Regions from separate parts of the Homo sapiens genome. Here region 2 is linked to region 1. The links come from fine-mapping of genetic effects on gene expression. A gene starts in region 1. The other region holds a variant in brackets. All regions are shown on one strand. Distances are between the middles of the regions.

Region 1 (5,375 bases):
TACTTGTTTATATTCTTAAGTATAACATGGCAGTTTTGTATTCTTATACAAATTCCTTTGGGTATATTTAAAAGAGAGAGATAATAATTTTATACATAAAGGTCAATAAATACAATATACCCTATTTAAATATATGATTAAAAAACTCATTTTAGATGCCAACTTGAAAATGTGTAAGGCAAACATATTGTTAAACATTTTTTAGGGGGTTTCAACAAAAAGTCTGTTATAGGCCATAGTGCTCTAGGGGTGGTGACAGTGATCCGGAGGCGGGAACGCCGGGCTGGCATTGTCCCTGGAGCCATCTACATCCAGCTGGCTGGGCTGGAGTTTGGTGTGGCTTCCAGTGTTCACTGCTATGATGCTGCTATCAGGTCAGAATGTCAGCAGGGATTTGTCTAGGCTTTACTGTCTCCCCAGCATTAACCATAGTGCCTGGCACGTAGTAAGAGCTCAACACATATTCAGCGCATGAATGAGGGGCCGGCACTTACGGAGCTCTCACTTTGTGCCAGGCACTGTGCTAAGAGCTGCCTATGCATTCCCCTGGAATTCTCACAACCACGCTGCAGTAGGTCCAGTGAGTATCCCCATTCCAGAGATGGCGAAACTAAGCCACAAAGAGGATACATAACCAGCCCAAGGCCACCAGTCAAGGAAGTAGCAGACTGGGACCTGGGCATCCTGGCAGGCACCCTTTACCATAATGCCTCTCTGTCCCCATGTGGTCCCTGGGGTAGAGTCTGCATCCTTGGGTTCTGAAACTCCAGAGCAAGCACTCTGGGGCACTCCCTGAGTGATACCCTCCTGCCATCTTAAACGGCTCTCTGCCATCTGCTTCCTCCTCCTAAGTGGTTTTCCTTCTGTCCTCCCTGTTTAATGTTTAAGTTGTGCACATCCTGTGACATCCTGGAGACCCATGTTCCTGACCTACTTACCTATTCAACCATCTCTTCTCACACATGGGGTAGCAATGAGAAGCACAGGGGGTCTCTGCAAGGGAGTAGGGAGGTGGAGAGAGCGGGGGCAGCCACACATCACACTGCTGTTCTCAGTGGCCTCCTGCTGTCAACAAGCTAACATTAATAAAACAAGCCCACTCTTCTGCTAAGAGACTGTGACAGGGTAACATTTATTCTAGGTAGCTTTTCAAGAAAACAGCTCTTGCTCCCACGGTCCCCTCGGAGGGCCTGCAGAGCTCCAGCGATGTCAGAGGGCATCTGTTTGTTTCTCCTTTGCTTATAAAAGGGACCTGGAAATCAAAGGCAGGCTCTTAGCCCTTAGCAGTGAGGATGACAGCTCTGCACCAGCCACACGCAGGCCCCTGGCTCTAGGAACCACCTCTCACCCAGACGCCCAGGCACAGCATGGTGGGGAGAGAGTACAGGACACAGGGCCTAGGCCTGCTGCCCCGCCCACAGCCCGCCCCCTAGCCCTTTCTCTGAGGCCAGGTGTACTCACCTAGCCTCCAGGGTCCCCTGCTCAGGTGGCCCCAGAGGCCCAAACCCACTGCTCCCACTTTCTGAGACCTGGGACCCTCACCTCCCCAACTCCCACCATAGGGCGACACTGAAAAGTGTCCCCTTCCCCCCCCCGTTTCCAAGTCACCAGCTTGAGGATGCCCAAGGCTCAAAGGCTCCTCCGAGTGGCACCCCGCATCGGGCTGCAGAGGTCGGAGAGGGGAGGGGATGGTGGGTGCAAAGGGTGGCTTCTTCAGGAAAGGGAAGCCTGTCCCTGGCTCCCAGCACCTGTCACCCCTGGCGATCTCACCCCGCGGCCATCATTCCCGTCCTCACGGCCCATTTCAGGGACACTGAGGCTCAAAGAGCCACGTGATTTATTCAAAGCAGCTCGAGCCACCACTTGGAGCCACAAGAAAGCCCTGGTCCGTGCCTCCTCGCCTTGGTCCCTGGCCCTTCACTCTTCGTCCAGGCTCTCTGACCTCTTTCCCTCTGCGCCCCTGCCTCTTCCCCAGGCCTGGGTCCCCAAGGCACTCGGCCACGCGCTGGGTCCGGGGAAGAGGCGCGGCCGCGGCCGAGGCGGGGACAGGGAGGCGGCAGCCCCTCCTGCGCAGCGACGGCGCGGGCGGGCGGAGGCCGGGGCGCCCCAGCCCCCCGCCCCCGCTCCCTCCGGCCGTGACGTCAGAGCCGGACGGGGTAAACTGAGCGGCGGCGGCGGGGCGCTGGGGCGGAGACTGCGACCCGGAGCCGCCCGGACTGACGGAGCCCACTGCGGTGCGGGCGTTGGCGCGGGCACGGAGGACCCGGGCAGGCATCGCAAGCGACCCCGAGGTAACACGGCCCCGGTTCCCTGCTCGCAGGGCGCGGTGCCGGAGGGGAGCGGGCCCGGGGGAGGCAGGGAGGCAGGGAGGCCCCCAGAGCTACGCGGGCGGGGCTGCGGGGACCCCGGGGCAGCCGGGGCGCAGGGCGCAGGGCGCAAGGTGCACGGGGCCGAGCGTGCAGTTTGGGAGGTGGCACAGTTGGGGGCGGCGGGGATCAGGGCAGCGTCCTGGGGGTTCTAGGTTGGGTCTCCAGATTGGGTCCCCGACGGCGCTCGCGGGCGCTCTTTCCAGGGAGCGCGGGCTCTCGTGGGGACGCGCTCGAGGCAGGTGAGCCGAGGCTGGGGCGCCCGGGGGTGTCCCCGGATGCCGGTGCGCGCGGCTCCCTGACCCGCCCTTCCGCGGCCTGGGGGACGGGAGAATGGGGGGTCCACGGCCGCCTTGGGTCCTCACCGCGCACCGCGCCCGCAGCGGAGCCCCGGAGCCATGGCCCTGAGCGAGCTGGCGCTGGTCCGCTGGCTGCAGGAGAGCCGCCGCTCGCGGAAGCTCATCCTGTTCATCGTGTTCCTGGCGCTGCTGCTGGACAACATGCTGCTCACTGTCGTGGGTACGTGCGGACAGGGCACCCCTGCCCCGGCACCCCAGCCCCAGCGCCCCTTCCCCGGCACTCCACTTACCCCTGCGCGGTCCCGGAGCTCCGCCAAGGCCCGGGAAAGTTGGAGAACTCGCTTTGCAAAAAAGACATCCCCTCCAGGCTGCCGCGCCGGGGCTAGGAGGAGCCGCGTTGTGTGGCTTCGCTTTCCTGATGCTCGGGTCAAAAACTGTGACATCCGATAAGACCCAGAACTTATGTTTCCCCCTGATAATTTCCCGCATCCTCTTGCCTGCTTTCACTGCGATGAAAAAGATTTCTGTTCCAAAAGAGAAATTCCTAAAGTTCAAAATTACGTGTTAGAATAATTATTGGGCTACTCGAAAAGGCAGGTTAGTAATTTGGTGTAGTACCTAAAAGAGCAAGTTTCGATCCCTTACTCCAAAAACAAGACATTTAGATATACTGTATTAGTGAATGACTTGAGATGGAAATATTTCAGGAACCATTGCAAGAACAATTTGAACAATCTTGGTTCTATTATTTTTCCTATAGTGGAATTTTGAAAAATTAAATAATCGAAATCCAGGTCCCTTAATTAGGCCCATTAACAGAGAAGTATTTGGCATGCATTTCCTTAAAAAAAAAAATCCCAGTTTTTAATGAATGAAAAAAAAATCACGACTCATTTAGACTGTAAGTGGTGGGAGCTGTTTCCTTTCTCTCCATTTGCAGGTTTTCTCACAGCAGTTTTCAGAGCATCTGATAGGTTTCATCTCGAGGAGTTATCAGAGCCGTGGAGCTCATCCCTGTTCAGTACCAACGGCATTAGTTCTGCTTCGGCTCGAATGCTCCATTGGACACATGTGCTCACAGCTTCGATTATATGTTTCACAATTTAATTTGTATTTTTTGTTGTTGCTTTTTATTTTGGTTTTTGTTTGTTTTTTTGAAATGGAGTCTCACTCTGTTGCCCAGGCTGGAGGGCAGTGGCACAGTCTTGGCTCACTGCAACCTCCACCTCCCGGGTTCAAGTGATTCTCCTGCATTAGCCTCCCGAGTAGCTGGGTTACCGGCATGCCCCACCAAAGCTGGCTAATTTTTGTATTTTTATTAGAGACAGGATTTTGCCATGTTGGCCAGGCTGGTCTTGAACTCCTGACCTCAGGTGATCTACCCGCCTCGACCTCCCAAAATGCTGGGATTACAGGCCTGAGCCACCGTGCCTGGCCTGTTTCAGTTTTGCTTTTTCCTTGTGAAAGCCTTAGGAATTCTTAAATCTTACAAGTTGTAGGAAAAATTACAGATTCCCACTCATAATAGAAGGATGAAGTGGGCCTGTTGCAGAATTTCCAAGTTATTACTTCCTGCAGGTTAATTTTTTTCTAAGACACATAATGAAGTGTAGTTTTCTGTTTCCTTGATTCATTCATTTGAAAGTCTTTTGAGCCTCTCTTTCTTAGAAGCACTGGTTGACTCCAGGTCAGCACTCTCTTAACGTCAGGCCACATTTTGCTTTTCTGAAATATTCCTTGAAGGAACAATGTGGAAGAAACCCACAAATGACAGAATCTCTGGGACCAGTCAGTTCAGCACAGCAGCTGCCTTTTGAGAGGAGACAGTTCTCAGGGCCGTTGGGGGCATGGTTCTTTCTAGTGAGCTAAGTAAAGTGAACTTGCTCCAATGTCGTTATAGACATATGGCACAGGGCTCCTGTTTTGGGGTAGACCTGTCACCCTCTGGACCTCTTCTGGCATTTGACACAACCATAGTTTTGTTGTTGTTATTGTTGTTTTGTTTGTTTGAGACAGAGTCTCACTCTGTCACCCAGGCTGGAGTGCAGTGGTGCAATCTTTGCTCACTGCAACTTCCACCTCCCAGGTTCAAGCGATCCTCCTTTCTCAGCCTCCAAAGGAGCTGGGATTACAGGTGGGTGCCACCACGCCCAGCTAATTTTTGTATTTTTAGTAGAGAGAGGGTTTCTCCATGTTGGCCAGCCTGGTCTCGAACTCCTGACCTCAGGTGATCCACCTGCCTCAGCTTCCCAAAGTCCTGGAATTACAGGTGTGAGCCACTGCTCCCTGCCGACACAACCATAGTTTTTTGCTGGCTTTTTTCCTGGAGAGGGTTTCAGTGTGATCACCACCTTGCCATTCTGCTCTTATCCCCAGTCCCCATCATCCCAAGTTATCTGTACAGCATTAAGCATGAGAAGAATGCTACAGAAATCCAGACGGCCAGGCCAGTGCACACTGCCTCCATCTCAGACAGCTTCCAGAGCATCTTCTCCTATTATGATAACTCGACTATGGTCACCGGGAATGCTACCAGAGACCTGACACTTCATCAGACCGCCACACAGCACATGGTGACCAACGCGTCCGCTGTTCCTTCCGACTGTCCCAGTGAAGACAAAGACCTCCTGAATGAAAACGTGCAAGTTGGTCTGTTGTTTGCCTCGAAAGCCACCGTCCAGCTCATCACCAACCCTTTCATAGGACTACT
Region 2 (5,375 bases), 86 kb after region 1:
ACTTCAAGGAATTAAAGTTGACTTTGTGGCGCCATTAACACCTCTGTCACCCCTCTCCCCAACTGCCACCATGGAAAAACTGGCCTGGTACCTTGAATACAACAGCCCAGCCGGTGGTCTTATAGCGGGGTGAAAAATGTCACTTCCTGACAGGCCCAGGAAACTCAGGATATTTTTGGGACCTCAGAGAGGAATTCACCATAATCTATTAAGTACTATAGGTGACGTTTAATGGTGAGCCCTGGGTTTGGCTTCACAGCCTTGAGAGTCTTTTAAAAGTCTAAAAGACTTATTTGAGATTACCTATCAAAAGTTCCAGAAAAGCCAACTTTTTTTTTTTTTTTTGAGACAGAGTCTAGCTCTGTCACCCAAGCTGGAGTGCAGTGGTGCAATCTCAGCTCACTACAACCTCCACCTCCTGGGTTCAAGCAATTCTTGTGCCTGAACCTCCCAAGTAGCTGGGATTACAGGCGCGTGCCACCATGCCTGGCTAATTTTTGTATGTTTAGCAGAGATGGGGTTCCGCCATATTGGCCAGGCTGGTTTCAAACTCCTGGCCTCAAGTGATCTGCCCACCTCAGCCTCCCAAAGTGCTGAGATTACAGGCATGAGCCACCACGCCCAGCCAAAACTATGAAAAAATCCACACTTCATCTGTTAGATTACAGCCTGGTTCACTGTAAGTTTTTATTATCTTCCTATAGACTGAACTGGATCCTGGATTCTTCTAGTTTCCTCCTGATACGGTTTGGCTCCGTTTCCCCACCCAAATCTCACCTTGAACTGTAATCCCCATAATCCCTATATGTCAAGGGTGGGACCAGGTGAAGGTAATTGGATCGTGGGGATGGTTTCCCCCATGCTGTTCTTGTGATAGTGAGTGAGACTCACAAGATGTGATGGTTTTGTAAGTGTCTGGCATTTCCCCTGCTCGCACTCAATCTCTCTCCTGTCACCTTGTGAAGAAGGTGCCTGCTTCTTCTTCCCCTTCCACTATGATTCTAAGTGTCCTGAGGCCTCCCCAGCCATGCAGAACTGTGAGTCAATTAAACCTCTTTTCTTTATAAATTACCCAGTCTTGGATATTTCTTTATAGCAGCATGAGAACGGACTAATACACCTCCAATATCTGGCTCCATACAACTCTCCAACTAAGAATAATAACTGCTCTGTTCTTTAATCCCTATAAGGTGAAGCTAGACAAATCAATATAAATTTCAAGAGACAAGTTTCATGCCTAATGTGTGGGCCACACAGAGTTCAGCAAATCACCCTATGCCATAACCAGAGACATTAAAACAGTGAACCAGGACAAGAAGTTGATAGCTTTGTGCTGTGGATAGCTTTTCCCAAGACTTTGGAACAAGCCTCCTCATCATAATGAGACTCTCACCTCTCTTAATGCCTTGCTTAAGCTTTCCTCTTTTGCTTGGCGCAGGATAATGCTGTAATCAAAATTCCACAATCAAACAGCTTCTGTAGGTAACTTGATGAAGTGCTGGATCTGTCATGTCAAACCCAAATCTTTACATGACCTAAGAGATCCTTTAATATACCTAGTGGTTAACTTTAGCAACATCTCTAATACAACTGTTTGTTCAAATTGAACTAGTGGTCCCTTGCATAGAGTTAGACTTCTAGAACCACTCATTCTCTCTCCTTGTTTTAAATTAGCACAGTCATGGGAAGCTGGATAATAGAATTTCTACCTACTAGCTGAACAGGGAGGCATCTGTGCAGTTGCAGACACTTCTTGTTACAGATGGATAAATACATCTGGTATTAAAGAGACTCAGGTACAAAAAATTAACAAAAGGCGACTTGGTTAAAATGGGTAGACTTCTAATATAGCTCATTCTTTGATCTATCTGATTTGATTGCTTTGGTTCATGGGGACCCTGCTTAGGGAACATACTCCAAACTCTTCATACTATCCTTCTGATAGTAGTAGTCTCCCTATGCACTGTATTCTCTCAAATGCTTTGAATGTTTACATGCAGCCATCCGTGAAACGTCAAATGGTCTCTCTTGGCTGGAACAACAAAAACTCAAAGAAATGAGTGACCATGAGGACCCTGTAATCCATGAATGGCATGTTGAAACTGGCAATGCAGAATGATAGAAACTGAAAGTAGCACTAATGCCCTAAGTTTTGGTCAGACTCTCACCTAGGGGTACTAAAGGATCTCACCTAGGTGAGACTGTGACCAAATGGGGGGAATTGTTAAACAAAAATTATGGGAGGCCATTGTTTTGGACTAAGCTCCTGCATTAGGCCCTAACAAAACAGACCAAATCAAAATACAGTCTCTGTAATGTTAAATGCCATATAAGCAAATAGATGCCAACAGACTAGTTTTTCCTGAAAACAGGTGATTCCAGTCTACCTGAGTTAGCATAAGTCAGTCCCCTGTGCTTTAATCTTTACCAAGAAGTAACTTATGTTAACCAATCAGGTTTTTTTTCTATTGTTCTGTTTCCTTGTTTCCACCTTACCAAACCTACTGTTCTTTCTGCCATTGCCCAGTGGGAGTTTTCATTCTATTTGCAGAACAGAGGCTGTCCTGATTCATGAATCATGAATAAAAGCCAATTCAATCTATAATTAAATGTTATAATTGTCTTTTGACAGGTGTTAGGGTACACATTGCTTCACATACATTTACTTTTTTCCATGATGAAAATATTTTGTCCAATTATTCTGAATTTGGTTTTACCTTTGAAATGGATATGGCTTTTATTAATTCTGATTTTTAGATTACTTTTTTATTCTGTCACAGAATTATGCAACATTCACATCTTCTCTTTACATTTCTTCTGTTGAAGTATATATAAAGAACTGTAGCTTTTAGTGGATATTCAAATACTGGAAAACACCCACAAGCATTATTACCACTCTAATAAAATAACATTAGTGTCTCCTACAAAGGTTAGCTTCACTACACAGAAGCATCTGTCCAATCTGCCAATTTAAGGATTTGTTTTGCTCCAAAACTTATTTCTTGGAAAAAAAAATTATTTCTTAGGATTTATATAAAGTATAATATGTGCACCAACTTATTTATTTTGTTTGCAAGAATGACTCCCATCACCAAAGTTATACTCAAGACTAACTGTTCAGAATGTGATTGTTTCTCTCCTACAAGTTCCAGATTTGGTTTCTGGGACCTAATTCCCTATGTCAGTG[C/T]TTCTTGTGCCTGCTTTTGACCTGACATCAATGGATTCCTTCAACCAGCAGTGGCTCTATGTTGACTGTCAAGCTTTAATTCTCAGAAGAATTACAATATTCCCCCCTCCCCTGCATTTTCCTGATTTCTTAAGATCTCTCTTTTTTTATTATTATTATTTTTTTTGGAGACAGGGTCTTGCTCTGTCGCCCAGGCTAGAGTGAAGCACTGTGATCATGGCTCACTGCTGCCTTGACTTCCCAGGCTTAAGCAATCCTCTCACCTCAGCCTCTGGAATAACTGGGACTACAGGCACGAGCCACCATGCCCAGCTAATTTTTTTTTTCTATGTTTTTGTAGAGAGAAGGTCTCACTATGTTGCCTCAAACTCTCTTACGAAAAAGTAACTTATGTTAACCAATCAGTCTTTTTTTTTCCTATTGTTCTATTTCCTTGTTTCTACCTTACCAAACCCACTGTTTTGCCAATGCCCAGTGGGAGTTTTCATTCTATTTGCAGAACAGAAGCTGTCTTAATTCATGAATCATAAATAAAAGCCAATTAGATCTATAATTAAATATAATCCTCCCTCCTCAGCCTCCCAAAGTGTTGGGATTATAGGCGTGGGCCACAGCACCAGGCCTTGACTGATATCTCCTCTTGGTATTTGAAAAACATGGAAATTTCTGAAGAAATGCCAGAAAGGAGTTCCCACTGGAAACGTGAGTACCAGCCAGTTAGGTGAATATAGACGACATTTGCTTTAGCTTAAGGTGAATTATAATCTCTACATTTAAACAAAAGGATAACTTTTCATTTCACATTTCTTACAGTTCAATCTTAAACAAAGACAGGCTTTCCATTCAAATTATATAATGACCAGAAGCAAGCAGTAACAATCACTGGCTAATAAATATTTTGCATAAATATAAACAAACATGTGTTAAATATGCAATAAATGAGTATAAATAAATTTCTACTACTACTACTTCCAAAGGGAAGTCAGTACTACTAAACAAAAAAGCAAAAGAAATTGCCTTTTATCTCCTCTAAATTGCCGTCTATCTCCTGAAAGAGCTATTACCTCTGTGAAATTTCTTACCAAGTTCAAAGTATTCTTTTAAAGGCAAAGGTATGTTGAAACCTTCCAGTAAGCATAAATACAAACACCACCTAGAAACATGTTAAGATCGTTTACATGATTAACCCATTTATACCGGAGGTTGAAAAATTTTTTTGTGAAAAATCAGACCTTGGCGATGACGTTGAGCAGTAGGATATAAATAACTCCCACAAGCTTAGAGTTCCAATAATGGAACACTAGGTATAAATGGATTAAAGATGAAACCAATGAGAAAAGGAAAGTAATTCCCAATGCTCATGCTATAAGAAAGTCATTTCTACAAAGAAAAGTACAAAATGATGGGGCATGGTGGCTCATGCCTGTAATCCCAGCACTCGGAGAGGCCAAAGTAGGTGAATACCTTGAGGCCAGGAATTCAAGACGAGCCTGGGCAACATGGCAAAACTCTGTCTCTACAAAAAATACAAAAAGGAGTTGGGTATGGTGGTGTATGCCTGTAGTCCTAGCTACTCGGGAGGCTGAAGTGGGAGGATTGCTTGAGCCTGGCGGGTGGAGGTTGCAGTGAGGCAAGACCAAGACACTGCACTCCAGTCTTGGTGACAGAATGAGACCCTGTCTCAAGAAAGGAAGGAGGGAGGAAGGGAAGGAAGGAAGGAAGGAAGGAAGGAAGGAAGGGAGGGAGGGAGGGAGGGAGGGAGGGAAGGAGGGAGGGAGGGAGGGAGGGAAAAATCTGTTTTTTTTTTTTCCTTTGGTGACTAAACTTAATTTGAAAGGAAAACCCTGCACTTGAAGGGGGTCAAATACCACTTCACCTGTTGTTAAAAGAATCAGGCTTGGTTGACCTTTTATACATGCTCACCTCCTCTCTATATTCCCAACCCCCCTCAGAAACATCCTCATGCAGAACTCAATTTTCCTCAATTTTCACGACTTCCAAATCTAATCTTCAGTCCTCATTTTCCCCCTGCTACCTCTAAAACCCCAAGAGTTTGCAGAACACTCCTACAGGGAAATCTAACCATGCCTTACTACTTAAGATATGTAAAATCAAATTCATCTGCCTTTGAAATGAGTACCTCTATTTCCCCATCCAGTCCTGGAAGGTAACTGTGTCTTGTTCTTTC

What was found. PIP is the estimated chance that this variant, and not a neighbour inherited with it, causes the effect.
Region 2: its variant is the best candidate, but not a certain one, in a credible set for the expression of SLC18A2 in whole blood (INTERVAL, PIP 0.54).

Annotation. Positions count from the first base shown.
Region 1 is chr10:117,238,930-117,244,304 of GRCh38, forward strand. It overlaps SLC18A2 (solute carrier family 18 member A2), which reads left to right and starts at 2,185. Exons shown (of 16, transcript NM_003054.6): 1 at 2,185-2,291; 2 at 2,750-2,885; 3 at 5,042-5,375. The coding sequence starts at 2,765. It overlaps SLC18A2-AS1 (SLC18A2 antisense RNA 1), which reads right to left and starts at 3,068. Exons shown (of 3, transcript NR_184310.1): 1 at 2,956-3,068; 2 at 2,732-2,854; 3 at 1-1,252.
Region 2 is chr10:117,325,076-117,330,450 of GRCh38, forward strand. All of the region lies in intron 2 of PDZD8 (PDZ domain containing 8), which reads right to left. Among named protein-coding and RNA genes, the nearest start is that of PDZD8, 48 kb to the right of the region's middle. The variant C/T (reference allele first, on the strand shown) is at 3,188.